7 linked regions of the Homo sapiens genome follow. The protein of the gene in region 1 purifies or fractionates together with the protein of each later gene. This does not show direct contact. Each region holds a gene or a part of one and is shown in the gene's direction. Other genes may lie near its edges. The genes, in order: SACM1L, CIAO2A, MYORG, SCFD1, TMEM98, ARCN1 and ATF2.

Region 1 (4,415 bases):
GGTTGGTTGCAGTGCAGACATCTGGATGTTTAAGGGGAGGAAGGGAAACTGATTTTTCAAATAATACCCAATTGTTCTTTATAAATCTTGTACTATTTGCATGTATTACCCATTTAAGAATTTTTTTTTTTTTTTTTGGCTGGGGGCTGTGGCTCACGCCTGTAATCCCAGCACTTTGGGAAGCCAAGGCAGACGGATCACCTGAGGTCAGGAGTTCAAGACCAGCTTGGCCAACATGTCAAAACCCTATCTGTACTAAAAATACAAAAATTAGCCAGGCATGGTGGTGGGTGCCTGTAATCACAGCTACTCAGGAGGCCGAGGCAGGAGAATCACTTGAACCTGGGAGGCAGAGGTTGGAGTGAGCTGAGATCATGCCACTGTGCTTCAGTCTGGGTGACGGAGGGAGATTCCATCTCAAAAAAAAAAGAAAAAGAAAAAAAATATTTTTAAGTATTTAAAAAAAATTTTTTTTAATTTAGATACAGGATATCGCTCTGTCACCCAGGCTGGAGTGCAGTGGTGTGATCATAGTTCACTGCAACCTTTAACCCTTGAGCTCAAGTGATCCTCCCACTTTAGCCTTCTGACTACAGGTAGGCACCACCATGCCTGGCTACGTTTTTGTTCTTTTAGAGGCAGGGACTCGTTATGTTGTCCAGGCTGGTCTCGAACTTCTGAGCTCAAGTAATCCTTCCACCTCAGCCTCCCAAGTAGCTGGGATTACAGGCACGCACCACCACGCCCAGCTAAAAGTATTTTTAATGCAAAATATTCAATCCTTGCCTCAGAGATTCTGATTCAGTTGATCTCAAGGCCAGGAATCTTTTTTCACAAGCAACCCAGAGGATTCTAAAGATAGTATATGAATCATAAAGCCCTGACATCTAGGGATATAGTTGGAATAATTATGTTAGAGGAAACCCTCATCTGGCTTTGGGAAACATGATTGATTTGCACAGCAACCTTTTTAATACTCTTAACTTTACTTTTTCACATCTTTGGGGTGAGATGATCTCTAATCTTCAGCCATTTTTTGGATGGAGGGCTGTCTTGCCTCAGCCATTTAGACTTCTTTTTGGTCTAGGATAATCACATATGCCTGACCACACATTCCTGTCTGACCTTTTAATTTACAGTTTTTAATAATGTCACTGAAATGAGACCCATGTTATAAGAGTTAAGTCCTTAGTAAATCTGACCTACTTTGGTATGAGAGTGTTTATACAAATATGTTTTAGTTATTTTCTAGTGGACTCTGCTGGCCAGGTGGTGGCAAACCAGGAAGGCGTGTTCCGAAGCAATTGCATGGATTGTCTAGATAGAACCAATGTGATCCAGAGTTTGTTAGCTCGTCGTTCACTTCAGGCCCAACTTCAGGTGCGAATGCTTTTTTTTTTTTTAATTGAAAAACAACACAGCAAAAAATTAAACATCTTTAAAACCCAGTAACAAAAAATATTCACATTGCCCACACCCTAACCCAGCTCTTTTTATTTTTGTGTCTTGCCCATGGATGTCACATTTTCCATAACTAGGGTCAGTCTGTGTATGCACAGTTTTCACTTTTGCCATTTTCCCTTAGCATTTATGTAATCACAGTTTCTGGTGGTTGTATTGTTGTGCCGTAATTTACTAAGCCATTCAGATTGCTACATTTTTGGTTTATAAATAACACCGTAGAGAATATATCTGTATATGTTATTATTAACTTGAATTATTTCCTTCATGTTAATTCCTAGAAGTGGAATTACTGGGTTAAAGAGAATAAATATATTATTTTCCAAGAGCGTCATACCAGTTTACACTGACACCAATAATGAATCAGTAAATCCATTTCATTGAACTCTTCCCAGCATTTGATATTTTAATTTTTTTTTTGTTTTTCCTTGAGAAAGTGTCTGGCTCTGTTGCCCAGGCTGGAGTGCAGTGGTGCAGTCTCGGCTTGCTGCAACCTCTGCCTCCTGGGCTCAAGCCATCCTACTAACTCAGCCTCCCACAAAGCTGGGGCTACAGGCATGTGCCACCACACCTGGCTAATTTTTGTATTTTTTTTTGTAGAGACAGGATTTCACCATGTTGCCCAGGTTGGTCTCAAACCCCTGGGCTCAAGCAGTCTACCTGCCTCAGCTCCCAAAGTGCTGGGATTACAGGCTTGAGCCACTGTGTCTAGCCTCTTTTTTTTCTATTTCGTTAATACAAAAGTAGCACCTCAAGATTGTTTCTATTTATCTCTCTCTTATTACTAGCAAGGAATATTGACTCCAAAGTAAAAAGTTTCTGACACAGCTTTGCTTTACCACTAGACTATGCTGTTGAGAAAAATGGTTTTTTTCTTCTGTGTATATTTGGAATGAAAAAGATGTAGAGCCCCAATTTTTAAATCACATTGGCATTTGTTGTGAGGGGCAGACAAAATGCATACCACATGGTTTCCTGTTCAGGTAATTAGTAAGCATTCAGCTTTATTTCTGACAATTGTATGATACCGAGAAAGAAATTATGGAGGTAAAATACCCCCTTCAGAATGAATTGTTCTTGAATCTTAAAGTCACACCTGCCAGAGGAGTGCTGTCCCTGTTGGAGTAGTCTGTAGTTTGTATTGTGCTATGTCCTCGTCTGTTGGAAGGTCTTCTAAGTGTAGTTTTTAATAGAAACAATATTAGGAATGGTTTGGTTCCATGGCTGATTAACCAAAACTTACTTGACTAGGCTCTGCAATCCATATTTTACAATTTTACATGCTATATATAGTATTATGAAACCTAACCAACCTGCAGAGAGTGGGGGCAGGAGCCTCTCCAGCAGCTTTGCCTACTAGTGTAGGGGCTGTCTACTTGTGCCTCTCCAAGTCTGCCAGTGAAGGCAGAGTTCTTACCCAGCTAAAGGTCACCAAGGTGGCTCCTGTGCTGTGTCTGAGGGTGGGAATGACTCCTTCTGAGGTGGAGATGAGGTGTCATCTGAGGTAAGCAATGAAGATGGTGGTTCTCAGAAGTGATGGTCTGAGACAAGGCAGGGACTTGTCATCTGTGGTTGGTGGTCTCCAAAGGGGAGTCTATAGAGGGGATTCAGGGGGCCCAGCAACCCTGGGATATTCTATGTCTGTGTGTGTGCACTTTTGGGGAGGTAGATTAGGTGGCACTCATCAGATTCTTAAAGGTCCCTGGGACAGAGGGTAAGGCTGGGGTGACTCAGGGGTGAAGAAGTTGAGGGATGATGCATGTGAGGGGGTCTCAAGGGGTAGAGGCAGTAGAAGACTGGGGGTAAGAGGGAGGGAGGAAGTAGCGGCTGGAATCCTATAGCAGCTTTCACTCTCTCTTCTGACCCTCTCCCTGAGTATAGTCCTGCTGCTATCCCTCAAGGGAGTGCGGGGGCTGCAAGGCAAAGGTGCCCTCAGGAGAGGCTTTGCAGTCTGCCCTGGGCAGGAGAGGGCTGCTGTGAGCTGGGGCCCCCTATAGACAACAGACATTTCTGGCCTGCATCCAGCAACCAGGCACCATGAGATAAAATTTGGGGACTGCTTTTTCTTCCTAAACCATGTCTGCTAAAATCTATTACACATAAATCTGGGTGTGGTTTTTTATTCCAGAGACTAGGAGTTTTGCATGTGGGACAAAAGCTTGAAGAACAAGATGAATTTGAGAAGATTTACAAAAATGGTAGGTCATTTCTTTAATATAGACAAAGTTGGTCAGATTTTGAAATAAATTAATATTCTGGATTTAGAACTTTGTTTGTCATCTTAATAATTATCAGCTGTTTTTACTTTTTTCTACAGCCTGGGCTGACAACGCAAATGCTTGTGCCAAGCAATATGCGGGAACTGGTGCCTTGAAGACTGACTTTACCAGGCAAGCCATGCTTTTAAAATAGCATTCCACATCAGTAGTTCACAGTCCTGGTGCTTTTAAAAATCACCTGGGCAGCTTTCAGACAGCAGCAGCAACAACAGCAAGACTCCAGCATCTGGGCCTCACTTGAGACCTGTGGAGTCAGGATTTCTGGGAAGTGAGGCCCGGGTACTGGTGTGTTCTTAGCCACCCTGGGAGATTCTGATGCTTGGGGAGGGTTGAGAGCCACCGCTCCACAGTGCTCCTCAGACCTTACCGTGTACCTGAAGCACCAGTCTTGAGATGTGCTCTAAAAAGCACCCAGGTGATGCTGATGCTGCTTTCAAAGACTGCACTGAGTAATGAGGACATTAATGAGAACATTTTGAATGTATTATGCATGCAGTGGCTCTTTTTCTGCTATGTGGGTTCCCTGGGAGCAGAATAAGATTTCTAGTCTGTTTGCTTTGCTGTGTCCTACCACTTAACCTGGGCTATGTATTTCTCTTCATATTTCTTGTCTTTGCAACTGGAATTAGTGTGTTTCTTTGTGCCTCCTTTGGTAATATTTTAGAAAGAAAATAG
Region 2 (4,415 bases), on another chromosome or scaffold:
AGCAATAAAGAGATAATTGGAGGTGTGATTTTCCCTCCACAGGGCTGTGCTTAAGAGTAAAACTTCAGCGATGTTTACCATTTAAACATAAGGTAAGAAAGATGTATTTTTGTTGTTGTTGTTGTTGTAAAACAGCTTTGTTGAGATATAATTCACATACCACACAATTCACGTATTTAAAGTGTACCAATTCAGTGGTTTTTGCTTGTCTGTTACTCAGTTGATGGACATTTAGGTTGTTTCTACTTTTTGTCTATTATGAGTAATGCTGCTATGAACATTCATGTATAAGTTTTTGTGTAGGCATATATTTTCATTTCTTTTCCACCTGTGAGTGGAATCGCCCGGTCCTATGGTAACTCTGTGTTTAACATTTTGAGGAATTGTTTGTTTTCCACAGTGGCTGCACCATTCTGCGTTCCCACTTCTCCACATCCTTGCTAACATTTATTATTATCTTTGATTACAGGCATTCTAGTGGGTGTGAAGTGATGGTTTTTTGTTTTTGTTTTTTGAATCAGAGTCTCACTGTCACCCAGGCTGGAGTTCAGTGGCGCCATCTCAGCTTACTGCAACCTCTGCCTCTCAGGTTCAAGCGATTCTCCTGCCTCAGCCTCCCGAGTAGCTGGGACTACAGGTGCCCACCACCACGCCCAGCTAATTTTTTGTATTTTTAGTAGAGACGGGGTTTCACCATATTGGTCAGGCTGGTCTTGAACTCCTGACCTCATGATCCACCCGCCTCGGCCTCTCAAAGTGCTGGGATTACAGGCATGAGCCACTGTGCCTGGCCTTGTTTTTGTTTTTGAGACAAAGTCTTGCCCTGTCGCCAGGCTGGAGTGCAGTGGTGCAATCTCGGCTCACTGCAACCTCCGCCTCCAGGGTTCAAGCGATTCTCGTGCTTCAGCCTCCCAGGCAGTTTGGATTATAGGCATGTACCACCATTCCCGGCTAATTTTTTTTTATTTTTAGTAGAGACAGGGTTTCACCATGTTGGCCAGGCTGGTCTTGAACTCTTGGCCTCAAGTGATCCACTGCCTCGGCCTCCCAAAGTGCTGGGATTATAGGCATGAGCCACTGCACCCTGCTGTCATGGTGGTTGTGATTTTTATTTCTCTGATGGCTAATAATGTTGAGAACCTTTTCATGTGGTTTTTGGCCATTTGTGTATCTTTGGAGAGCTGTCTATTCAGATCCTTTGCCCATTTTAAAATAAGGATGTCTTTTTATTATTGAATTATAAGAGTTCTTTATATAGTCTAAATACAAGTCCCTTGTCAGATATGATTGGCAAATATGTTCTCCCATTCTGTGTGTTGTCTTTTCACTTTCTTGATGGTGTCCTTTACAGTACAAAAGTTTTAAATTTTCATAAAGTCTAATTTGTTTTTAATTTTTTAACTTGTGCTTTTGGTGTGATAATCTGAGGAAGATGTTTTTAACCCTACTATTGAGCAAGAATATGGATATCACAGTTAATTCATAGTAATTGGTTATCGCTCGTGAATGATTCGGCCTTGTCTCTTACTGCCTCTTGTAATTGCTGGGCAATTATGCCTTCTCTACCTGGCTGCTACCTAGCCTTTACACAGAGTACCCTGTCTACTTGGAGTTCCCTTCCTCCCATCTCATATGTTCAAATCCTACACATCTTTTTTGTTTGCTGTTGAGACAGGGTCTTGCTCTGTCTCCCAGGCTGGAGTGCAGTGGTGTGATCACTGCTTACTGCAGCCTCTATCTCCGAGGCTCAGCCTCCCAAGTAGCTAGGACTACAGGCGTGCACTGCCATGCCTGGCTAATTTTTTCTTAATTTTTGGTAGAGATGAGGTCTCTCTTTGTTGCCCAAGCTAGTCTCAAACTCCTGGGCTCAAGTGATCATCTTGCCTTGGCCTCTCAAAGTGTTGGGATTATAGGCATGAACCACTGGGCCTGGCCAAATCCTACCCACGTTTTAAGGCCCAGTGAAATACTATTTTATTTTCCATGATATCAGTCCTGATTTCTTTCTTCTTTTTAAGATGAATTTTTATTTATCTTTTAAATTTTTTTTTTTATTTTTTGTATTCACCTTTCCATACTACTAGTCCTGATTTCTGTAACTAAAGCTATTTCTTTTTTTGAATTGCCGTGGCTCTTTCTTTTTGTTTTTTTTAAAGACAGGGTCTCACCCTGTTGCCCAAGCTGGAATATAGTGGTATGATTACAGCTCACTGAACCTTTGATCTCCCAGGCTCAAGTGAGCCTCCCTCCTTACCCTCCCAAGTAGCTGGAACCACAGGTATATGCCACCATGCCCAGCTAATTTTATTTTTTGTAGTGACAGAGTCTCACTATGTTGCCCAAGCTGTTCGTGAACTCCTGGGCTCAAGCAGTCCTCCCGCCTTGGTTTCCCAAAGTGTTTCGGATTACAGGCGTGAGCCACTGCACCCAGCCCCGTGGCTCTTTCTTTGTCTTCTGATGTAGAGAGTGTCCTTTTCTAACTTGTGTTCTGTTTGTTTTTCATCTTCCCTCCTGGACTGTCAACTTCTCTCTCTTTTCTTTTTTTTTTTTTTTTGTTTGCGATGGAATCTCGCTCTGTCGCCCAGGCTGGAGGGCAGTGGTGCGATCTCGGCCCAGTGCAGCCTCTGACTCCTGGGTTCAAGCGATTATCCTGCCTCAGCCTCCCAAATAGCTGGGATTACAGGCGCATACCACCACACCCAGCTAAATTTTTGTATTTTTAGTAGAGACAGGGTTTTGCCATGTTGGCCAGTTTGGTCTTGAACTCCTGACTTCAGGTGATACACCCGCCTTAGCCTCCCAAAGTGCTGGGATCACAGGCATGAGCCACCATGCCTGACCAGCTAGCTGTCAGCTTCTTGAAGTCAAGATTCATATATGATACATCTCTGTGTTCCTGCTATGATCTTATACATATTTGGAGCTCAATAAATACGTCTTAAATTGAGTAAATTAATAAATTATTATACTAGTGGTTTATGATGCCCTGTAAATTTTATTTTTCATTTTTAACTGTTTTAATTACAATGTTTAACTTTTTATTTGAAATGAAAATAATGAAAGAAAAGAAATAAAATAGTGAAGAATAGTACAAAGAAATTCCATATATCCTTCACCCAGATTCAGATTCACTAATTGTTAACATTTTGCCACATTTGGTTTATCATTAATTTCTCTCTATATATGTACACACACATACACATATTTTCTGGAAATGTTTGAGTGCATTTGTAATGCCCCCTTACTCTAAATACTATAGGATGTATTTCCTGAAAACAAGGACATTCTCTTACATTACCACAGTATAAATTTCTAAACCAGGACATTGATACAGTACTGTCATCTCATCTACAGCACGTATTCCAATGGGTAACATCCTTCATGGCGGTCCCTCCTCCTGGCTCTGCTCCTCTCCCCCATCATACATTGCATTAGTTGCCATGTCTCTTTAGTCTCATTTAATTTAGAGTAGTTCCTTAGCCTTTATTTCATGATCTTGATATTTTTGAAGAATGTAAACCAGATATTTTATAGATTGTCCCTCAAATTGAGTTTTCTGATGTTTCCTGGTTAGATTCAGTTTGTGCATTTTTGGCAAGAATACTGAATAAATGTGTTCTCATTGCATCACATCAGAGGCCTATAAATTCAGTTTGTCCCATTATTGGTAACAGCTCCCCTCATCAATTGGTTACCCTGAAGTATAGTTCATATAGGAATAGCTGCATAAATGCTGCCTTTTCCCCTTTATCACTTTTAGAATAATGAGTCCTGTGTAATTTTAAACTGAAGTAAGTCAGTATAGAGTGATTCTATACCTGTTGCTTTGAGGTCTAGAATAAGAGTGTTTTGCTACTAGGAGAAAGGTGTTTTGTTTTGTTTTGTTTTGTTTTGTTGAGACGGAGTCTCGCTCTGTCACCCAGGCTGGAGTGCAGTGGCGCAGTCTCAGCTCACTGTAACCTCCACCTCCCGGGTTCAAGGGATTCTCCTGCCTCAGCCTCCTGAGTAGCTGGTAATACACGCCCGGCTAATTTTTTGTATTTTTAGTAGAGTTGGGGTTTTACTGTGTTAGCCAGGATGGTCTCGATCTCCTGACCTCGTGATCCGCCTGCCTCGGCCTCCCAAATTGCTGGGATTACAGGCATGAGCCACCACGCCCGGCTTGTTTTGTTTTTTAAAAAAAATTGGGGCCAGGTGCAGTGGCTCACGCCTATAATCTCTGTACTTTGGGAGGCCTAGATGGGCGGATCACTTAACCTCAGGAATTCAAGACCAGCTTGGGCAATATGGCGATACGCGGTCTCTACAAAAAAATAGAGACGAGGGAGGAGAGGGGTGGGAGTGTGGGAGCTGAGGTGGGAGGATCACCTGAGCCCAGGAAGTCGAGGCTGTAGTGAGACATGATCGCGCCACTG
Region 3 (3,500 bases), on another chromosome or scaffold:
TGGGGACTTGATCTTATTTAAGGTCTCCAAATAGCCCCCACCACACTTAGAACGTGTGTTTTCTTAGTGTTAGAAGCCAGGCCCTGAGTCCCCAGCACTCACCTGAACTGTGGCTGATTTGGTCCCAGTCCAGCTGGGGAGGTGTTTGGCTGACAAGGAGGCAAGAGATCCCCTCCCAGGGAACAGGAGGACTGGGCTTAGCACAGAGCCATCATCATGTTCCCAATTTGTGAAGAGACTCCTAACACTGCACTAACCCATTTGTGTACATACATGGGCTCAGCCCTGGGCCAAATGTGCCTGATGGGAACAGACTTGCAGGGCCATGCAGGCCAGACTTCGTGCCTTAACTGAAGAGTGTGCGTGTGTGTGTGTGAGAGAGAGAGAGAGAGAGAAACACGCATCATGGGTCCCTGATCTATGAAATGAACACAACCTCTCTGAGGCTGGATGATCTGGAGGAAGGGGGCATGGAGCAAATTTGAGGCTCTGATTGCTGAGCCAGCCTCCTCCCAGGCGGTTTCCCCAGGACTCTCGTAGGAAATAAATAGCCCTTTCAAGATTCCTCAGCTGCCTCACCCCCTGCACATGTGCCTGGGGTGTGGCCTAGAAGGGAGTGATGTTCTTACTCTGGTGGTCTGTGCTTCTGAACACAGGCTACATGCACACACTGACAACTACCAATAAACAGACAGGGGAAGGTCTTTCATCTCAGCCATTTTCTCTTCCCCCCGCCCCCCCTTAGATGGAGTCTTGCTCTGTCACCCAGGTTGGAGTGCAGTGGCACAATCAGCTCACTGCAACCCCTCCTCCTAGGTTCAAGCGATTGAGTAGCTGAGATTACAGGCATGCATCACTATGCCTGGCTTTTTGTATTTTTTAGTAGAGATGGGGTTTACCATGTTGGCCAGGCTAGTCTCAAACTCCTGACCTAGTGATGCACCCACCTTGGCCTCCCAAAGTGTTGGGATTACAGGCATGAGCCACCACGCCAGCCATTTTCTCTTTCTAAGAAGAGCAACCTCAGCCGGAGTGAGTTTTTTCTGACTTTGCAGCTGAGTCTGGAGAAAAGTGGCATGCCAGAGCGGGTCGGTGGGAAACAGGGTGAACTTTAGCTTCCATCAACAGCTCTGGTAGCAAAACCAGTCCCCTACCCCCTAGAGAATGCATCCGTTTCCCCACCTGATATGGTTTGGCTGTGTCCCCACCTAAAACTCATCTTGAATTGTAGCTCCCATAATTGCCATGTGTTGTGGGAAGGACCCAGTGGGAGATAATTGAAATATGGGGGCAGTTTCCGCCATACTGTTCTGGTGATAGTGAATAGATCTCATGAGAGCTGATGATTTTATAAGAGGTTTCCCCTTTTGCTTAGTTCTCATTCTCTCTTGCCTGCCGCCATGTAAGACGTGCCTTTCTGTCATGCTTGTGAGGCCTCCCCAGCCACGTGGAGCTGTGAGTTCATTAAACCTCTTTTTCTTTATAAATTACCCAGTCTTGGTTATGTCTTTATCAGCACTGTGAAAATGAACCTATACAGTAAATTGGTACCAGTAGAGTGGGGCGCTGCTGTAAATACCCAAAAATGTGGAAGCAACTTTGGAACTGGGTAACAGGCAGAGGTTGGAACAGTTTGGAGGGATCAGAAGACAGGAAAATGTGGGAAAGTTTGGGACTTCCTAGAGACTTGTTAAATGGCTTTGACCAAAATGCTGATAATGATTGGGACATGAAATCCAGGCTGAGTTGGTCTCAGATAGCGATGAGGAACTTGTTTGGTACTGGAGTAAAGGTGACTCTTGCTATATTTTAGCAAAGAGACTGGCTGCATTTTGCCCCTGCCCTAGAGATTTGTGGAACTTTGAACTCGAGGGAGATGATTTAGGGTATCTGGCAGAAGAAATTTCTAAGCAGCAAAGCATTCATGAGGTGACTTGGGTGCTGTTAAAAGCATTCAGTTTTAAAAGGGAAACAGACTATAAAAGTTTGGAAAATTTGCAGCCTGATGATGAGATAGAAAAGAAAAACCCATTTTCTGAGGATAAATTCAAGCCCCCTGCAGAAATTTGCATAAGTAACAAGGAGCCAAATGTTAATCACTAAGACATGGGGAAAATGTCTGCAGGGCATGTCAGAGACCTTTGCAGCAGTGCCTCCCATCACAGGCCTGGAGGCCTAGGAGGGAAAAAATGGTTTTGTGGGCCAGGCCCAAGGTCCCCTTGCTGTGTGCAGCCCAGGGACTTGGTACCATGCATCCCAGCTGCTCTAGTCATGGCTAAAAGGGGCCAAGATACAGCTCAGGCCTTGGCTTCAGAGGGTGCAAGCCCCAAGTCTTGGCATCTTCCACGTAGTGTTGAGCCTGCAGGTGCACAGAAGTCAAGAACTGAGGTTTGGGAACCTCTGCCTAGATTTCAGAGAATGTATGGAAATGCATGTATGTCCAGGCAGAAGTTTGCTACAGGAGTGAGGCCCTCATGGAGAACCTCTGTTAAGGCAATGTGGAAGGGGAAGCCCCCACACAGAGACCCCACTGGGACACTGCCTAGTAGAGCTGTCAGAAGAAGGCCACCGTCCTCCAGACATCAGAATGGTATATCCACTGACAGCTTGCACCATGCACCTGGAAAAGCCACAGACACTCAACGCCAGCCTGTAAAAGCAACCGAGAAGTAGGCTGTACCCTGCAATGCCATAGGGGTGGAGCTGCCCAAGACCATGGGAACCCACCTCCTGCATCAGTGTGACCTGGATGTGAGACATGGAGTCAAAGGAGACCATTTTGGAGCTTTAAGATTTAACTGCCCTGCTGGATTTCAGACTTGCATGGGGCCTTTAGCCACTTCGTTTTGGCCAACTTCTCCCACTTGAAATGGGTGTATTTAGCCAATGCCTGTACCTCCGTTGTATCTAGGAAGTAACTAACTAGCCTTTGATTTTACAGGCTCATAGGTGGAAGGGACTTGCCTTGTTTCAGATGAGACTTTGGAGTATGGACTTTTGAGTTAATGCTGAAATGAGTTAAGACTTTGGGGGACTGTTGGGAAGGCATGATTGATTTTTAAATGAGAGGACATGAGATTTGGGAGGGGCCAGGGAGAGAATGATATGGTTTGGCTGTGTCCCCATCCAAATATCACCTTAAATTGTAGCTCCCATAATTGTGGGAGGGACCTGGTGGGAGATAATTGAATCATAGGGGCAGTTTCTCCCATACTGTTCTGGTGGTAGTGAATAAGTCTCACGAGATCTGATGGTTTAATAAGGGGTTTCCCCTTTTGCTTGGCTCTCATTCTCTCTTGTCTGCTGCCATGTAAGATGTGCCTTTTGCCTTCCACCATGATTGTGAGGCCTCCCAGCCACATGGAACTGTGAGTTCATTAAACCTCTTTTTCTTCATAAATTACCCAGTCTCGGGTATGTCTTTATCAGCAGTGTGAAAACAGACTAATACACCACTCCTCTACCTTCTTTATTTTCTCAGTGTGGAAAATGCCTGATGA
Region 4 (4,415 bases), on another chromosome or scaffold:
GTTTCTGTATATTTGCCTACTCTGACCATTACATATGAATGAAATCCTATAATATGTGGTCTTTTGTATATGGCTGATTTCTCTTAGCATAATGTTTCCAAGGTTCATCCATATTGTAGCATGAATTGGTACCTTATTCCTTTTCGTGGCTGAATATATTCCATTGTATGGATGTACGAAATTTTATTCATCCTTTTACCACTTGATGGACATTTGGATTGTTTCTACCTTTTGGCTATTAATAATGTTGCCATAAATATTCATGTGCAGGTTTCTCTGTGGACATGTTTTCAATTCTCTTGTGGCCGTAAACACATAGGAATAAAATTGCATGGTCAAATGATAACTCTATGTTTACCTTTTTAGTAATAGACTGTTTTGCGAAGTGTGGTTGCACCATTTTATATTCCCACCAGTAGTGTGTGAGGGTTCTGATTTCTCCAGATCCTTGCTGAACACTTACTATCCGATATTTTTATTGTAGCCATCCTAATAGGTTTGAAGTGGCATCTCATTATAGTTTTGATTTGCATTTCTGTAATTAATGATATTAAGCATCTTTTAACATGCTTATTGGCCATTTGTATGTCTTTCTAGAAATATCTATTCAGATCATTCACCCAGTTTTTAATTGGGTTGTCTTTTTATTGTTGAGTTGATAGAATTCTTTTTCTGTTTTGGATACTAGACACTCACAAGTTTATGATTTGTAAATATTTTCTCCCAGTCTATGGGTTATCTTTTCATTCTCTGGATAATGTCCTTTGAAGCACAAACATTTTTGATTTTGATGAAGCCCAGTTTATCGGTTTTTTTTTTTCTTGAGTTGCTTATGCTTTTGGTGTCATATTTAGGAAACCATTCCAGATTCTTGTGTTTTCTTCTAAGAATTTTATAGTTTTGGCTCTTACCTGTAGGTCTTGATTCCCCTTTGCATTATTTTTATATATGGTGGGATGTAGGTGTCCAACTTTATTCTTTTGCATGTGGCTATCCAGTTGTCCCAGCGTAATTTATTAAAGAGACTATTCTTTCCCTAGTGAATGGTCTTGGCAGCCTTGTCAAAAATCAGCTGACCACAGATATCTTGTTTGATTTCTGAACTCTCAGTTCTATTGCATTGATATCTATGTCTTTCCTTATGCCTGTACCACACAGTGTTGATATCTCTTGCTTGATAGCAAGTTTTGAAATTGAGAAATTGTGTCCTCCAACTTTGTACTTTTTTTCAGACTGTTTTGGCTTTTCTTGAATTTCCAAATTACGATTAGCTTGTCATAAGTTTTGTGCTTCTTTTGTTAAATTTATTCTTTCATGTGTTTAATGCTTATTATGAATGGAATTCTTAATTCCATTTTTAGGATTCTTCATTGCAATTGTATAAAAATTCAATTGATTTTTATGTATTTATCTTGTATCCTGCAACCTTGCTGAACTTATATGTCCTTTTGAAATGTATGCATCATTCTTTGACCACTTCCTTACTTTCTGGCACAATAAGATGTTCCAATATAGCCTAGGATTTTACTTTCTCTGTCTCAGCCCAGGATTCAGACATTTTTCTGAGGAGCTCTGGTTGCTTTCTGTAAAGAATGGTATTTAGGAATCAGGATCTAGGCATTAGGTATATTCATTGTGACTAGAGTGTCACTGTTCTTAGGTCCTCTCAATGGAAAAAGTTAGGAAATTATGTATTTATACATACACTTTTATATCTGTATTTATTTCTACAATTCTCCCTCTCTTCCCCTCACCTATCCAGATAAACAGATAACCTCCAAAACTGTTTCAGCTCAGCAACACAGGATTCACTCTAGCGTTTCCCTTTTCTCTTTACAAATTTGTAACTCCTTTCTCAGAGTGAAAAACATGGTTCCCAGTATCGTGAACATATTACTTATTTCTCAATCCTCATACATAAATAATTTCTTGACCTTGATTGAACCACTACCCTGATCACCTTCCTCACAAAGGCTCCAACCCCTCAATGTTTCACATTTTAACATCGCTAAAATCAGGTGCATCTTAAAATTGATCATGCCACAAAATTTTATTGGCATCATTAATTCTTAGTGTTACATAAAATGATGGTTCTTGTTACAGTCAATGACATCTTAGATTTAAGGAAGTATGGTTATTTCGATATCTATTTGCTAAAAGTATAAGAAGATAAGTAAATTTGACTTAAGAATTTGCATAACTTAAATTGCACTACTTTTGAGCAGTTGAAAAGAAATACCTCTAGAATTGGTAATTGGATTTATAACTTGTCTGTGTGCAATGAAGGATTTGTTGTGTCATCACATGTCCAGAACAGTTGAAGATCGTGTCTGCCAAATATAACAAGCATTTTACTATATTAGTGGACCATATCTGGATATTTTAAGAAGAATGCAGATAGGCTGTATGAAAGCAGTTTGTACTGTATTGTAATTAATGAGATTTTGTTGATAATATAATTTTATTACTTTATTAAGAAACATTTTAGTTACATCTGATAACCAGATAACCAGTACTACTTCAAAGGTTTTTTCTCTTGGGATACTTTTTTTGATTGTCATTTAAATATCCTGTCTTTTAAATATAACTTTGCCTTATAGTAGTTGAAACATATGTATTCATGGTCTTCTTTATCCTATAAGAATAAAGTTTTCATTGTATTGATAGGATCTTCGAAATCAACTATATGAATCATATTATTTAAATTTTATTTCTGCTATTTCAAGAAGTAAACTGGAAGATATTGCAAATGCAGCGTTAGCAGCTAGTGCAGTAACACAAGTAGCCAAGGTAAGAGAGTTTGGTGGGTTGATGACATTTTGTCAATGTAAAATTTAACACTGTTCTGAAACCCGTAGTTGGCATAGATATCTATTTGACAGATGACCAGAACAACAGAATTGTTTAGGCTCAATACTTTTATAAAGAGTTCTGATAATATAAATTATATTCAAGTTGAACTAGGCAAAATAAGCCAAACTAAAGGAACCTATTATTTAATGAATTTGAAAGACAGAAATAAAAAGCAGAATGAGTTTTGCTTTAGTCTGTGATTTGTATAATATTTTTAGGTCAACTCAGAAATCATTTGACAGTTGTATTGTCATAAACTGTATTGAAAGTATGTTGACATTGTTTTATCTGTAATCATTATAATCATCATACTATTTCCAGATATTTTTTTTACTTAGGAAAGAGGATCCAAAGTGCCCGTGTTGCATATTGAGATCCAAAGTGCCTCTGTTGCATATTAAGAGAAAAAGAACCCATGACAGGCCTGCAATTCTACATCATAGTGACTTTTTAGTCAGGTTCAGCTTCAGTTATAAATCAATTTGTAAAATATATTTCAGGTTATAATCCTGTAATGCTCTGTGTTTCTTGAATTTGGACAAGATATGCATTAAAGTTCCAGACAACTATCTAGGACAAATAAAAGACTAAACAACCATGCATATACTTTCTATTCTTTTTCTACTGATAGATTTTTCATTGTTAGAGTTAAATAGACCACTAATATTTCTGATTAGTTTTTGAGGCTTATGCCTTTAATCTTTGTGCTCAAAATTTATTAACTTCACATAAAATAATGGGAACAACTTTTGTTTTCCTTCTTGTTTTGTTTTGAGACAGTGTCTCGCTCGCCCAGGCTGGAATGCAGTGGTGCAATCACTGCTTGCTGCAATCTTCAGCTCCTGGGCTCGTACCACCCCACCCAGCTAATTTTTTTAATATGTTGCCCAGGTCTCAAACTTCTGGCCTCAAACAGTCCTCCCACCTCAGCCTCCCAAAGCTCTGGGATTACAGGTGCAAGCCACCTCACTCAGCCTTAATTTGGTTAACTAAATTCAGTGTATTTCAAATAGTTCTCTTAATTTTTCTCCTACTCTGCACTTCCAAAGAACTGGCATAACTTTTTCCCACTTTATTAGAAAAGTTCTTGGTGTAAAACAATTACTGTGACTTTTTTAGGAAAATGTGATGAAAATGATTGTTAAAATTGTATGTTTTCTTCAAAATTGATATCCATTCCCATCACAACCACAATTTAAGTTCTTGTATCTGCTTAAATTTTGTTTTCTGAAAATGTTATTCTCCTCCTTCATATTTATTGCCCAAAGACTTGTTTTTATTGCCTTAACTTACTCTTTACTCCTCATTCTTGTTCAATTAGGCTGTTACACAGTACAATTTTTAGTTATTGAATGTAATTAGGATTTTTTTTCATTTCTACCATTGGTAGGTTAGAGCAAACTAAATTTACTTTCAATATGGCTATATTGTAAGATTGATTTGTAAACCTTTTCTTTTGTTTCTAGGTTTTTGACCAATATCTCAATTTTATTACTTTGGAAGATGATATGTTTGTATTATGTAATCAAAATAAGGAGCTTGTTTCATATCGTGGTATGTAA
Region 5 (4,247 bases), on another chromosome or scaffold:
TTTGCAGTTGCAAACTGTGGCTGGTGAGTGGCAGTCTAATACTACAGTTAGGGGAGATGCCATTCACTCTCTGCAAGAGGAGTATTGAAAACTGGTGGACTGTCAGCTTTATTTAGCTCACCTAGTGTTTTCAAGAAAATTGAGCCACCGTCTAAGAAATCAAGAGGTTTCACATTAAAATTAGAATTTCTGGCCTCTCTCGATCGGTCAGAATGTGTGGCAATTCTGATCTGCATTTTCAGAAGAGGACAATCAATTGAAACTAAGTAGGGGTTTCTTCTTTTGGCAAGACTTGTACTCTCTCACCTGGCCTGTTTCATTTATTTGTATTATCTGCCTGGTCCCTGAGGCGTCTGGGTCTCTCCTCTCCCTTGCAGGTTTGGGTTTGAAGCTGAGGAACTACAAAGTTGATGATTTCTTTTTTATCTTTATGCCTGCAATTTTACCTAGCTACCACTAGGTGGATAGTAAATTTATACTTATGTTTCCCTCAAGTGTGTAGTTATTGAGTCAAATTCATATGCATGGTGTATTGTGGGACATACTTAGATGGAAGGAGAGAGCCTAAGAATCCTGAGGATGATTTCTGTGTATGCCTCAAAATGAGATATTTAGGCTGGGCGCGGTGGCTCACACCTGTAATCCTCGCACTTTGGGAGGCTAAGGTGGGTGGATTGCTTGAGCCCAGGAGTTTGAGACCAGCCTGGGCAACATGGTGAAACCTCATCTCTACACAAACTACAAAAATTAGCTGGGCATGGTGACACGTGCGGCTGCTTGGTAGGCTGAGGTGGGAGGATCGCTTGAGCCCAGGAGGTGAAGGTTGCAGTGAGCCCTGATTGTGCCACTGCATTCCAGCCTGGGCGACAGAGTGAGACCATGTCTCCAAAACATACATATATATAAAATATATTTAAAGACCTCTTGGAGTTCAGGCAGAAGTGAAGATAGCACTATGAAGTAGTTTCCACATTAACAATAGCAATGACTTGAACGATGTGTTCCCCCTTTCTTCTGATATTAATATCTGTTCATTTTGCAAACATTGAAAGATTATGAAAGCTATGACCCAGAATCACAATTATATAATTTGGATACATACCCAAATGGCATAATTTCTGTCATAAGCCTGTAGGAAAAGCTTGAATTCTTCACTTCTCAGATTCTCAGAGCCAGCTTGCTCTTGGGAGAGGGGCCTGGTATAGGGGCTGCCCAGGTTCGTAGCCTATGCTGTCAAGCATGTTTGGAGTTGCACATCTGTTCCCATGTCATTTTCTCTGTCTAACTGAAGTCAGAAAATTCCTCAGCTGGATTCTGGGGAACCAGGAACCCATATTCCCAAATCCAAGATTGGGACCTGGTTTGTCTTTCCATTTGGGCACATTTCATTCTTTCCAGGAAAACAGGCCACTTCCAACCTGCACAATGTACACCAAACCACAGAACCACAGCTGGGATATGGAGTCAGGAGAGGGAAGCTGGAGCTCAACTCTCATGGACTAAAGGATGGATTCTGGATGGGCTCCAGGGGACACCTTATTGGATTGGTGGCTTCCATCAACTCTTAAAAACGTTAAGTGGTGAACTTTCCCGTCCTGTCAAGCTGTGAATGGGGAATGTATACAAAGTCACTTTGACTTTTCTATTTGAGGCCTCCACAGTAAACATCCAGAGTCATCCTATTTTTGTCTTTTTACCTCCCTTTCAGAACCTGTTTTCGTAATTAGACTGGAAAGCAATTCATGCTAAGTTTGCAATGGCTGCCACAGTTGTAAGTGTCCCCTGCATTTTAACCTGCACTAGAGCCCTAAGCCACAGAGAAGCAGTTCTGAATTGGTATCTCAAATACCATCCACCTGGTGTGGGTCTGCAGGGTGGAGAGCTTTCCCAGCACCCCTGAAGCAATGCCCAATGTCGATTACCTTCTCTGAGTCCTGGCAAGTCCTGGCACATTGGCTTTCTGGATCCCTTAGATGCTGCCCTTTCTGTTGTGAGGAGAGGTTGCCGAAGATATTGGAGGTGTCTGCTGGACTGTAGGATTTCTGATCCCACTGCTGTGTAGTTTTTTTTTCTAGTGCTGGACAAGTAAGAAGCCTCTGGATAAATTTGGTGTTGGTGGCTGATGGTTGAAGTGGAAGCAGTCTTTGGGGTAGGAGGCAATGCCACTCCTCTAGGCCCTTCGGGAGTTGGCTGAAGTTACTTCCTCCCTTGGAAGGGGCTGGTTAGTGAGTGCCAGGGATCTCAGGACTGTCTCTGTGCCAGGTGTGGTTTCCCAGGCAACAGACACATTCCTAAGTGCCTAGTTCTCTAGCGTCTGTATACATGGTAGTAGAGCCTTCCTTCCATGTCTCTCTTCCCTCTGGCCTGGAATAGGAGCATTAGACTCAAATTCTGATGAAAAAGAAATTACTTGGAGATAGAGATTCAATGTGAAGAGAACAAGATATTTGAAGTCAGAATTAGGTTTGAATTTGGGCTCAGTGACTTACAGTGTGAGCTTGGTCAAGTTCTTAACATTCTGGTCCTTAGCATTCTCATCTGTATGGTCAAGGCTATTGTCATTGGGTTGGTATGTCAACAAGCAAAACGGTATGTGTGAGCTGCCCAATTGTGGGCCTGGTTCTGATTAGCCAATGTTAACACCCTTCTCTCCACAGCTTCCCATTCTCTGATGCCGCTGACCCAGATGGCGTCACCTCAGTTACCATGGCTTGGTCCAAGCAGTGACTTCTGTTCATGGGCTCTGGAATTGAGTGGCCAAAAATCTGGAATCCCTACAGTAGGGAGAGTAGCCTTGTCCCTGCCCCACTACAAGTCTGTTCATATGAAGACATACAAAGCCGTCGCCTCTAATCAGTGTTCAAAGGGTCGATTGTGCAACTCACATTCCTCCAGAGAAATTCCCCCAGCTTGTGAGATCTCCAAGAGGGAACACGTATTCCTGGCATCCAACTTCCCCTGGTGCTCCCCCTGACCTGCCTCATTCCAGGAGTTCCCTCTCCAGAGACCCTGTGTGCCCACACGAGCAGACTTTTAGAAAATGGCCTACAGTTCAAAGGCCCTGCATTGCTTTATGGCCTTGGAAATGTGGGGAAAGTGTCAGATGAAGAATTTCTATCCTCCTCACCTCCTCCCTGTCTCCAATAAATGCATACCAAGAGCTTTCTGTGGAAGAGGGTTCGTGCTAGATGCTGGAGCTATGAAACAAAAGGCACAATCCCTGCCCTTAAGGAGCGATAGAGAAATGAGCAACTGCTGGAGCCATGACTGTAGCCAGTGCTGTGATGGAGGGGACCACAAGAGGGACTGTGGGCACACAGAGAAGGGACAGGGCAGGGGTGGGGTTGAAATAGGGCAGAGCTGCTGCCTGAATGGAGACTTGACAAAGAAGGAGTCAGGCATCAGAACAGAAAATGGTCCCAGCTACTCAGGTGGCAGGGGCAGGAGGATCGCTTGAGCCTGGGTTGGGTGGAGGCTGCAGTGAATCTTGATAGAGCCACTGCACTCTAGCTTGGGCAACAGAGCAAGACCCTGTCTCAAAACACACACATGTACACACACACAGAAAGTGCCGGGGGAAATAATATGGTTGTGCTGTGTTTGTTCTGGTGGGTCTTACTGTGTTTCTATGAGAAAGGCTGATGAGCAATTTTCAGAATTTGAGGCAAAACTGGTTCTTCCTGTTTCATCCTATTTGTATTTTTATTATCCCAATTTTGCAGGTAAGGAGACCAAAGCAGAAAGATCAGTAACCCTCCTGGAGTCTCACAATTAATATGAATCAGAGCAGGATCTTCAACTCCTCAACTTGTGTTTTTAACTGGCACATCTTCCTGCCTGGGTGCAGCAGGTGGGAAATCCATCATGGAAAGGAAAGAACAGACATGAGAGTCATTCCATTCTCTTCCAGTTCAAATCTTTTTTTGTGAAAAAAATGGTAGTTGTGACCCATGAATTAATTTCACGGCCCACTAATTGGTTACAACCCACAGGATGATAGAACATAGGTACTAAAATGAGGGCTGGGGCATGGGTGAGGTATTTCCTCTCCTTCCAAAATGACTTAATTTTATCCATTTAAAATAAAATTTGCATTTACCAGAATAGTGGCAAAAATTTATTGTGCAGAATAGAATAATTGATTTATTACATGAATGATTAGTTCAAGAGTCATCTGTTGAGCATCTGCACTGGATTAGGCCCAGAGATGCATGAATGAATAAAAAGATAATGCCTCTCTTGAGGTG
Region 6 (4,415 bases), on another chromosome or scaffold:
GTTTGGCTATGCTTTTTAGGTAATGTTTTTTAGGTAAGACTTACTGATCCAGAGACAGACACACACACACACACCCCTCTTCTAAGACTTTATGCCAAAGTCTTGCTTAAAATGAAGACTTAGGTAAGACTTACTGATCCAGAGACAGACAGACAGACAGACACACACACACACACACACACACACACACCTTTTAAGACTTTATGCCAAAGTCTTGCTTAAAATGAAGGCTAAGGCCAGGTGCGGTAGCATGTGCCTGTAGTCCAAGCTACTCAGGAGGCTGAGGCAGAAGGATTGCTTGAGGCCAGGAGTTCAAGTGCACAGGCATTATACTTTAGTGTGGGCAACACAGCAAGACCCTGATTCTTTTTTTTTTAAAGACGGAGTCTCGCTCTTGCCCTGGCTGGAGTGCAGTGGTGCAATGGTGCAATCTCGGCTCACTGCAACCTCCACCTCCCAGGTTCAAGCAATTTTCTGGCCTCAGCCTCCCGAGTAGTTGAGATTACAGATGTGCATCGCCATGCCTGGCTAATTTTTGTACGGGGTTTCACCATGTTGGCCAGGCTGGTCTCGAACTCCTGACCTCAGGTGATCTGCCTATCTTGGCGTCCCGAAGTGCTGGGATTACAGGCATGAGCCGCTGCACCCGGCTGTAAGAATCAGGGTCTTGGGCGTGGTGGCTCACGCTTGTAATCCCAGCACTTTGGGAGGCTGAGGCGGGTGGATCACCTGAGGTCAGAAGTTTGAGACCAGCCTGACCAACGTGGTGAAACCTCGTCTCTACTCAAAATACAAAAAAATTAGCTGGGCATGGTGGCGGGCACCCATAATCCTACTACTCAGGAGGCTGAGGCATGAGAATTGCGTGAACCCAGGAGGTGGGGGTTGCAGTGAGCCGAGATCGTGCCACTGCACTCCAGACCGGGTGACAGAGTTAGACTTTGTCTTAAAAAAAAAAAAAAAAAAAAAATCAGGGAGTTAGGCTGGGCGCAGTGGCTCACGCCTGTAATCCCAGCAGTTTGGGAGACTGAGGCAAGCGGATCACCTGAGGTCAGGAGTTCAACACCAGCCTGGCCAACATGGTGAAACCCCGTCTCTACTAAAAATACAAAAATTAGCTGGGCGTGGTGGTACACACCTGTAGTCCCAGCTACTCCGGAAGCTGAGGCAGGAGAATCACTTAAACCCAGGAGATGGAGGTTGCAGTGAGCCGAGATGGCACCACTGCACTCCAGCGTGGGCAGCAGAGCGAGACTCTGTCCCAAAAAATAAAATAAAGACTAGAAGTAGCTAATAAAGGGATTTAGGTTATTGAAATTTATGTACTCTAAAGGATAAGACTTGGAAATATAGCTGCTGATAAATTCTAAATCTTTCTTTTTTATTGGTGTCCACGCTTAGATCCCTGAATATTGCCGAGCCTTAGAAGAGAATGAAATATCTGAGCACTGTTTTGATTTGATTTTTGCTTTTGATGAAATTGTCGCACTGGGATACCGGGAGAATGTTAACTTGGCACAGATCAGAACCTTCACAGAAATGGATTCTCATGAGGAGAAGGTGTTCAGAGCCGTCAGAGAGGTAAATAGGATCTTCTCTGGGACTACCTGTTTGTATGTCTTTCTCTTAGGCTTCACTAATCTCATTTTCCTATTTTTACTTACTAATGTAGACTGTATTCAAAACTATGTCCAGGCTAGGCACAGTGGCTCATGTCTGTAATCTCAGCACTTTGGGAGGCGGAAGTGGGAGTATCACTTGAGTCCAGGAGTTCAAGACCAGACTGGACAGCGTAGTGAGACCCTGTCTCTATAAAAAGTAAAAAAAAAATTAGCCAGGCATGGTAGCACGTGCATGTGGGTCCCAGCTACTTGGGAGGCTGAGATGGGAGGATCACTTGAGCCCAGGAAGTTGAGGCTGCAGTGAGCTGTGATTGTGCCACTTGCACTCCAGCCTGGGTCACAGAGTGAGACCCTGTCTCAACAAAAACCCAAAAAAAAAAGCTACATTAATGTATGTCTTTTTCTGTAGACTCAAGAACGTGAAGCTAAGGCTGAGATGCGTCGTAAAGCAAAGGAATTACAACAGGCCCGAAGAGATGCAGAGAGACAGGGCAAAAAAGCACCAGGATTTGGCGGATTTGGCAGCTCTGCAGTATCTGGAGGCAGCACAGCTGCCATGATCACAGAGACCATCATTGAAACTGATAAACCAAAAGTGGCACCTGCACCAGCCAGGTATAATCCAGTGTACTTTAGAATACCAGGTGAAGGGTGTATATGTGTCTATCTTTGAAGTCATAATCTGATTTCTTGGAAAGCTGTAAATAAAGAAGGACTTGATGAAGTAAGATATGATGTTACATTTGGCCACATACAATATGAGGATAAAGAAGAAATCTGAATGTGGTGTTTTTCCTTTTGTATAAAAGAGAGTTATAAATTATGTCATGACCTCAGTTTCCTATGAGAGTTGCCTTATTGTGGGGAGGAAAGGGCTATTTAATGCTTTATGGAATGTAGATTTTTAATCTTGATGTTCATTGATTGATTTTAGGGGAAATCTGTGAATTACCCAAAATTATATACAAAATTTTGTGCACAGGTGTATTTCTCTGGACGGGAGATACAAAATTTTCATCAGATCATGTGTGCTTGTAAAAATAAACCTTTGGGTAATGAATTTCAAATTCTTCCACTTAGGCCTTCAGGCCCCAGCAAGGCTTTAAAACTTGGAGCCAAAGGAAAGGAAGTAGATAACTTTGTGGACAAATTAAAATCTGAAGGTGAAACCATCATGTCCTCTAGTATGGGCAAGCGTACTTCTGAAGCAACCAAAATGCATGCTCCACCCATTAATATGGAAAGGTAAGTAGGAACTTTGAGTAAGAATTCAAGCTTTGAATACAGTCCACATAATTTTTTAAAAATCTTATTTCAGTGTGCTATAAATTCTTTCTCTGTCTTTTAATCGTTCCTGATTTAAAAGATTTATTCAGAGCAGATTCTACATATTAACATAAGATCGTTTTTGGTTTTGTTTTGTTTTATTTACTTATTTTTTTTTGAGATGGAGTCTCACTCTGTCACCCAGGCTGGAGTGCAGTGGTGTGATCTCGGCTCGCTGCAAGCTCTCCCTCCCAGGTTCACGCCATTCTCCTGCCTCAGCCTCCCGAGTAGCTGGGACCACAGGCGCCCACCCCTACGCCCGGCTAATTTTTTTGTATTTTTAGTAGAGATGGGGTTTCGCCGTGTTAGCCAGAATGGTCTCGATCTCCTGACCTTGTGATCCGCCTGACTCAGCCTCCCGAAGTGCTGGGATTACAGGCGTGAGCCACCACGCCCGGCTGTTGTTTTGTTTTATTTTTTTGAGACAGGGTCTTACTATGTTGTCTAGGCTGGCCTCCAACTCCTGAGCTCAGTTAATCTTCCTGCCTCAGCCTCCCAAGTAACTGGGATACAGGCATGCGTTGCTGCACCTGACCTTTTCCTTTTTCCTTAAACCATGATTGGGGGCCCTCAGCCACCTATTTTCTATGAAGTTTAGAACTTTCCTTTTACAGCTAAATTAAAGTTACTTGTAGTCACACCTGGTATATAGCGTATCTCTTAGAATGCACTTGAATTAGGGGACTAGAGCTATGGTGACCCCACACTGTATTTTGGCATGACTTTTTCTAATTAAAGTCTAAGTAGAACCAATCTTTAATCCAAAACTTGTAGATATCTTTAATAGCAAATTAATATATTTTGCATTTTTATTTTATTTATTTATTTTTTTGAGATGGGGTTTCACTCTGTCACCCAGGCTGGAGTACAGTGGTGCAATCTCAGCTTGTTGCAACCTCTGCCTCCCAGGTTCAAGTGATTCTCCCACCTCAGCCTCCCAAGTAGCTGGGACTACAGGCATGCACCACCACGCTGGGCTAATTTCTGTATTTTGGTAGAGATGGGGTTTTGCCTTGTTGCCCAGGCTGGTCTCGAACTCCTGGACTCAAGCAATCTGCCTGCCTCGGCCTCACAAAGTACTGGGATTACAGGCGTCAGCCACCATGCCCAGCCATCTTTTGCAGTTTAAATATTTGAAGCCAGTATGGAATATTTTGATTCATCTCTTATCTCAGGGCTGTGGTACTGGTTGGTGACATTTTTAAGTGGTAGTTATCAAGTTCACATATTCGTGACTCAGATTTCTCGTCTTGAAGCCAGACCTTCTACTGTTGCTGATGGTTTTGAGGTCAAGTGAAAGATAATACCAGGAGGATACCTTTATCAGGTGTGCATAAAAGAGGAGTATTTACTCTTTTTCTTTCTTCTTTCCTTTCTTTCTTCCTTTCTTTCTTTCTTGACAGAGTCTTGCTCTGTCTCCCAGACTGGAGTGCAATGGCACGATCTTGCAACCTCCACCTCCCGGGG
Region 7 (4,415 bases), on another chromosome or scaffold:
CAAATCTTTTTTCCTAGAGAGCATTTCATTCTTTTCACACTTAACAGTTTTTCATTGTTCGTGGCTGCTTCAGCATCTTTTAGGAGTATTCCTTCTTTCTGCATTCCCCAATCATTAGGCCCTCCTTGAGCAAGGTATACCATATGAAATTGATTTAAAAAAAAAAAAATCTGGACCTCTTCTTCTTTCTTGATTTTCTTCCTAGGTGATCTCATCCAGGCCCATAACTTTAATAAACATCTACATACTGATGACTCCCAAATTTCTATGGGCATAGGTATCTCACCAGATTGCCAGATTTATATCCAACTCCATCTTGACATTACCTTTTCTATGTCTAATAGACATCTTAAACTTAATAGGTCAAAATCAGAGTCCTTGATTCTTCCCCCAGTTTTCCCCATCTCAGTAAATTTTCTCCATCCATTTAGTTGTTCTAGCTGAGAATTTAGGGGTCATCCTTAATTTCTTCTTTCTTTTACACTGAAACTAACAGCATATTTTATCAGACCTGAATCTCATCCTCTATGTCTGTGTTCAGTGACACCACGTAAGCCCAAACCATCATCATCTTTTGTTTGGATTATTAACAGTTACCTTCTAACTTGTCTTCCTGCTTCTACCTCCAATCCATTTTCTGTAAGATGACTTTTAATACATTAAATATGTCACCTGCTTAAAATCTTTCAATGGTCTACCATTGTATTTAAAATAATTCACACTCCTTGGCATAAGCCCTCTTTGATCTGGGCCTGTCTACGCATCTATCCTTACCTCATGCCTCTCTATTGTGTTCATCAAATATTCAAAGCTTTTTCCTACCTCAGGACATGACATATATGGTATTGCTTCCTTCTCCCTACAATGAAATGCTCTCCTCCTCATCCTTTTATCATCAGTTCGAATGCTGTTTTTGCAAAGAAGCTCACCTATTCTTACTATGCTGTCTAAATTAACTGACTCTTCCTTACCTTCAGCTAATCTTTCATCCTTTGTTACATTGCACGTATTATTCTGTAACACTTAACATTTACTACAATCTGAAATTTTCTTACTTGTTTTACTTGTTTATTGTCTCTTCCTTGAGAGCTAGTCCTTGGGAGCATAAGTTCTCAACTTACTGAATAAATGAAGTTACAATACTACTACTTTATCCTTCTTCCTATGTAGCTTAATAAGATTTTGATGATAAGTGGCAGCATACAGGCCAATTCATAAAACACCATAGACCCAATTTTTACACTGACTATTTAAGGAGTTCTGGGTAAAATCTTTTAAAACTTTTTGTTCTATAATTTGTAAAACCAGAGGAAATACCATCTTTAAGGTCTTGGCTGACAAATTCTGTTTTCCTGACTTGAAAGAGTTCACTCCGGTAATTATTTATTTTACATTCAAGATATCAGTATTACGTGGCCTTTTGATATGAAGAAATTATTGATATAGAAGAGGTAGCTAACTGGAATTAACAATTATTTGTATTGCTCTAAAAGTTCTTATTTCTGTTACTTAATTGTATCAGCCATAACACAGTCTCACTGGACCTGTTTCCTCTTCATACAGTATAATGAGGGAGGGGGACTAAACAGTCCCTTCTGGATTTTAAGTTCTGTGATTCTCTGAGAATGGATTATATTTTTATTTTTTATTAAAATTCTCTTGGTATCATAGCCAAGTTGCCCAGTCTAACTTATTTCTGGATTGATAGGAGAACAAGTTGTACTGGAAAAAAAAAAAACGAGTCTTTTTAAAATTAAAATATTAATTGAACATTGCATTTGAATCTTTACAGCTCTTCTAAAATGTTCTTTTAATTAATTTGAGATATTAATTTGCTTTTAGCAGTTATTATTCTGTAGATGCTTTTAGAAGTGTGTTACATTCTGTTCACTAAGGTACATGATTTGTATTTTTAAATGCCACCCTTTTTTATCTCATTGTTAAATAGGAAGTACCATTGGCACAAACTGCACAGCCCACATCAGCTATTGTTCGTCCAGCATCATTACAGGTTCCCAATGTGCTGCTTACAAGTTCTGACTCAAGTGTAATTATTCAGCAGGCAGTACCTTCACCAACCTCAAGTACTGTAATCACCCAGGCACCATCCTCTAACAGGCCAATTGTGTAAGTGATTCAGGCCAATCATTGAACATATACATGAATTAAGTTTGTTTTGTAATGATTTTTCCTAAGACATTTGATTATTCAAACTAAGATCTTAGTTTTGTATGTGTGTGCATGCTTCGAATTTTGGAAAAAGTACTTGCGTAGTCTTCTTTAATATAAATATTAACTAACAGAGTGGGAGATAAATACAACTAAAAACAAATATAGAATGTGAATTTAAGATAGTCTTATTTTCATGCTATTTCACACAAAATATAAAATTACTGCATCACCAGATTCCATTTCTTTCAGTTCTTACTGGTAGCTCCCAAGAGCTCTCTGATGACAGTTTTTCTCATTTTACAAATTGGAGATTGTCCTAAGTAAATCCATAACTTTTCTCTTCTTTTCAATACTGCTACACAGGTTATGCATTTAAGATGCAATTAAAAATAATTAAATTTTGCTATTTGCTTTGCTGTGGTTAGAAAATGTATTTTTAAATGATATGATTATAGGAGTAAAAATACTATTGTATTTTTAAGAGACAGTTGGTATGAATCTCTTTTTTAAAATTTCTCTTCTTTTGTTTTTCTTAGCCCTGTACCAGGCCCATTTCCTCTTCTGTTACATCTTCCTAATGGACAAACCATGCCTGTTGCTATTCCTGCATCAATTACAAGTTCTAATGTGCATGTTCCAGCTGCAGTCCCAGTAAGAAAGTTAGACTATTTAAATCTCTATCGCAAAACTGATCTTTGTAGTCAGAAAATAAAGTTGGCTGCTTGACTGGCTTATGAAATTGAATTTAACATAATATTGATTAGCAGTTGATAGTATTTATTTGTTATCATTGTAATAGCATATACCATTCAAGGTATAGCTATTTTTTCTCTTCTCCCCAAAACCTTAATTTTTTTTTTATACTGAGATCTTCTTATTCAACCCATATCAATTTGACTGGACTTGTAGCATTCAAATATTAACACAGATTTCAAATTTTAGAAAGATATTTGTACTAGAATACTTGTCAGGTAACTCTGTGGTATTTCTATTAGTATGGAAATTGTTTATAAAGACACACTCTGAATTTTTGTGGTCAAGTAGGGTTTGTAGAATCTTTGATAGCCCAGCATGTTAAAATGTAAATGTTCTAGAAAAATAATCTTTCACTTTCCCTGTGAAAAGACCCCGCAAAAAAGTTTTTTGAGGGGTGTGTTAAATATATAAATTTTGAAAGACGTAGACAAAATAGTTAACTATCTACTTATGATATTTAATAGTTTGGCCAGGCATGGCAACTCATGCCTGTTGTAATCCCAGCGTATTGGGCGGCTGAGGTAGGAGGATTGTGTGAGCCCAGGCGTTTGAGACTGCAGTGAGCTATGGATCCTGCCTGGATGACAGGGCAAGACCCCAAGTCAAAAAAAAAAAAAAAGTAATAGTTTAATGAACATTTAAAAACACATTGTTTGGAATAATGTGTGTTAGAAAATTGCTTTTTTCTTACTTACATTACATAAAACAGTTTTATTCAAACAAACTCTTCAGTTATGTCTTTGACATTCAAATTTTCATCCTGAGAACCACTTTTTGAGACATCTAGCACAGTTTCCAGAACACAGTATTTTCTTTTTCATCTAAATCATTTACGATATTACTTTATGAATCTCTCTATTATTCTCTCCCTGGAAATCTTACACCAAGCATTAGGTACTTATTTATGTAATAAAAAGATAGTTTTTTCTTTTACCTTCTAAGATGCTTGTTACTGATCAGTACAGTGTAATCATTTACAGTGTAGCTTTTAAAAATTATTTTTAGGCCAAGTGCAGTGGCTCATGCCTGTAATCCCAGCACTTTGGGAGACCAGGGTGGGTGGCTTGCCTAAGTCCAGGAGTTCAAGACCAGGCTGGGCAACATGGCAAAACCCCATCTCTACAAAAAATAAACACAAATTAGCCAGTTGTGATGGAAGCACCTGTAGTCTCAGCTACTCAGAAGGCTGAGGTGGGAGGATCACTTGAGCCTGGAGGTTGAGACTGTAGTTAGCCGAGATTGCACCACTGCATTCCAGGCTGGGCAACAAAGTAAGACCTTGTCTCAAAAATAATAAAAAATAAAACTTATTTTTAAAAGCTTACTTATAGTAACATTCCAACACTTTCGGTGAGATTACCCCCAAGAATATTACTAGGATTAATGTTTGATATTTATATCTTTTTTTAATTAACTAATTCTTCCACGTGATCTTTCAAACTATCCAAAATTAGCATTGATTGACGTAATTTCAAGATAATGTGCCT

What was found.
Region 2: the proteins of SACM1L (region 1) and CIAO2A purify together in Homo sapiens (co-immunoprecipitation; one large-scale study listed by IntAct). This does not show direct contact.
Region 3: the proteins of SACM1L (region 1) and MYORG purify together in Homo sapiens (co-immunoprecipitation; one large-scale study listed by IntAct). This does not show direct contact.
Region 4: the proteins of SACM1L (region 1) and SCFD1 purify together in Homo sapiens (affinity purification with mass spectrometry; one large-scale study listed by BioGRID and IntAct). This does not show direct contact.
Region 5: the proteins of SACM1L (region 1) and TMEM98 purify together in Homo sapiens (co-immunoprecipitation; one large-scale study listed by IntAct). This does not show direct contact.
Region 6: the proteins of SACM1L (region 1) and ARCN1 purify together in Homo sapiens (co-immunoprecipitation; one study listed by IntAct). This does not show direct contact.
Region 7: the proteins of SACM1L (region 1) and ATF2 purify together in Homo sapiens (co-immunoprecipitation; one large-scale study listed by IntAct). This does not show direct contact.

Annotation. Positions count from the first base shown.
Region 1 is NC_000003.12:45,733,994-45,738,408, forward strand, and holds part of SACM1L (phosphatidylinositol-3-phosphatase SAC1), read left to right. Parts: intron 1-1,241; coding exon 1,242-1,380; intron 1,381-3,589; coding exon 3,590-3,659; intron 3,660-3,778; coding exon 3,779-3,851; intron 3,852-4,415.
Region 2 is NC_000015.10:64,076,779-64,081,193, reverse strand, and holds part of CIAO2A (cytosolic iron-sulfur assembly component 2A), read left to right. Parts: intron 1-42; coding exon 43-92; intron 93-4,415. UniProt on the Homo sapiens protein: Component of the cytosolic iron-sulfur protein assembly (CIA) complex, a multiprotein complex that mediates the incorporation of iron-sulfur cluster into extramitochondrial Fe/S proteins.
Region 3 is NC_000009.12:34,366,899-34,370,398, reverse strand, and holds part of MYORG (myogenesis-regulating glycosidase), read left to right. Parts: 3' UTR 1-3,500.
Region 4 is NC_000014.9:30,635,458-30,639,872, forward strand, and holds part of SCFD1 (sec1 family domain-containing protein 1), read left to right. Parts: intron 1-2,667; coding exon 2,668-2,790; intron 2,791-4,319; coding exon 4,320-4,407; intron 4,408-4,415. UniProt on the Homo sapiens protein: Plays a role in SNARE-pin assembly and Golgi-to-ER retrograde transport via its interaction with COG4. Involved in vesicular transport between the endoplasmic reticulum and the Golgi.
Region 5 is NC_000017.11:32,941,156-32,945,402, forward strand, and holds the end of TMEM98 (transmembrane protein 98), read left to right. Parts: 3' UTR 1-3,160; downstream 3,161-4,247. UniProt on the Homo sapiens protein: Functions as a negative regulator of MYRF in oligodendrocyte differentiation and myelination. Interacts with the C-terminal of MYRF inhibiting MYRF self-cleavage and N-fragment nuclear translocation.
Region 6 is NC_000011.10:118,581,778-118,586,192, forward strand, and holds part of ARCN1 (coatomer subunit delta), read left to right. Parts: intron 1-1,401; coding exon 1,402-1,581; intron 1,582-2,031; coding exon 2,032-2,237; intron 2,238-2,702; coding exon 2,703-2,867; intron 2,868-4,415. UniProt on the Homo sapiens protein: Component of the coatomer, a cytosolic protein complex that binds to dilysine motifs and reversibly associates with Golgi non-clathrin-coated vesicles, which further mediate biosynthetic protein transport from the ER, via the Golgi up to the trans Golgi network.
Region 7 is NC_000002.12:175,112,402-175,116,816, reverse strand, and holds part of ATF2 (cyclic AMP-dependent transcription factor ATF-2), read left to right. Parts: intron 1-1,948; coding exon 1,949-2,127; coding exon of another isoform or gene 2,128-2,131; exon of another isoform or gene 2,132-2,574; intron 2,575-2,708; coding exon 2,709-2,823; intron 2,824-4,415. UniProt on the Homo sapiens protein: Transcriptional activator which regulates the transcription of various genes, including those involved in anti-apoptosis, cell growth, and DNA damage response.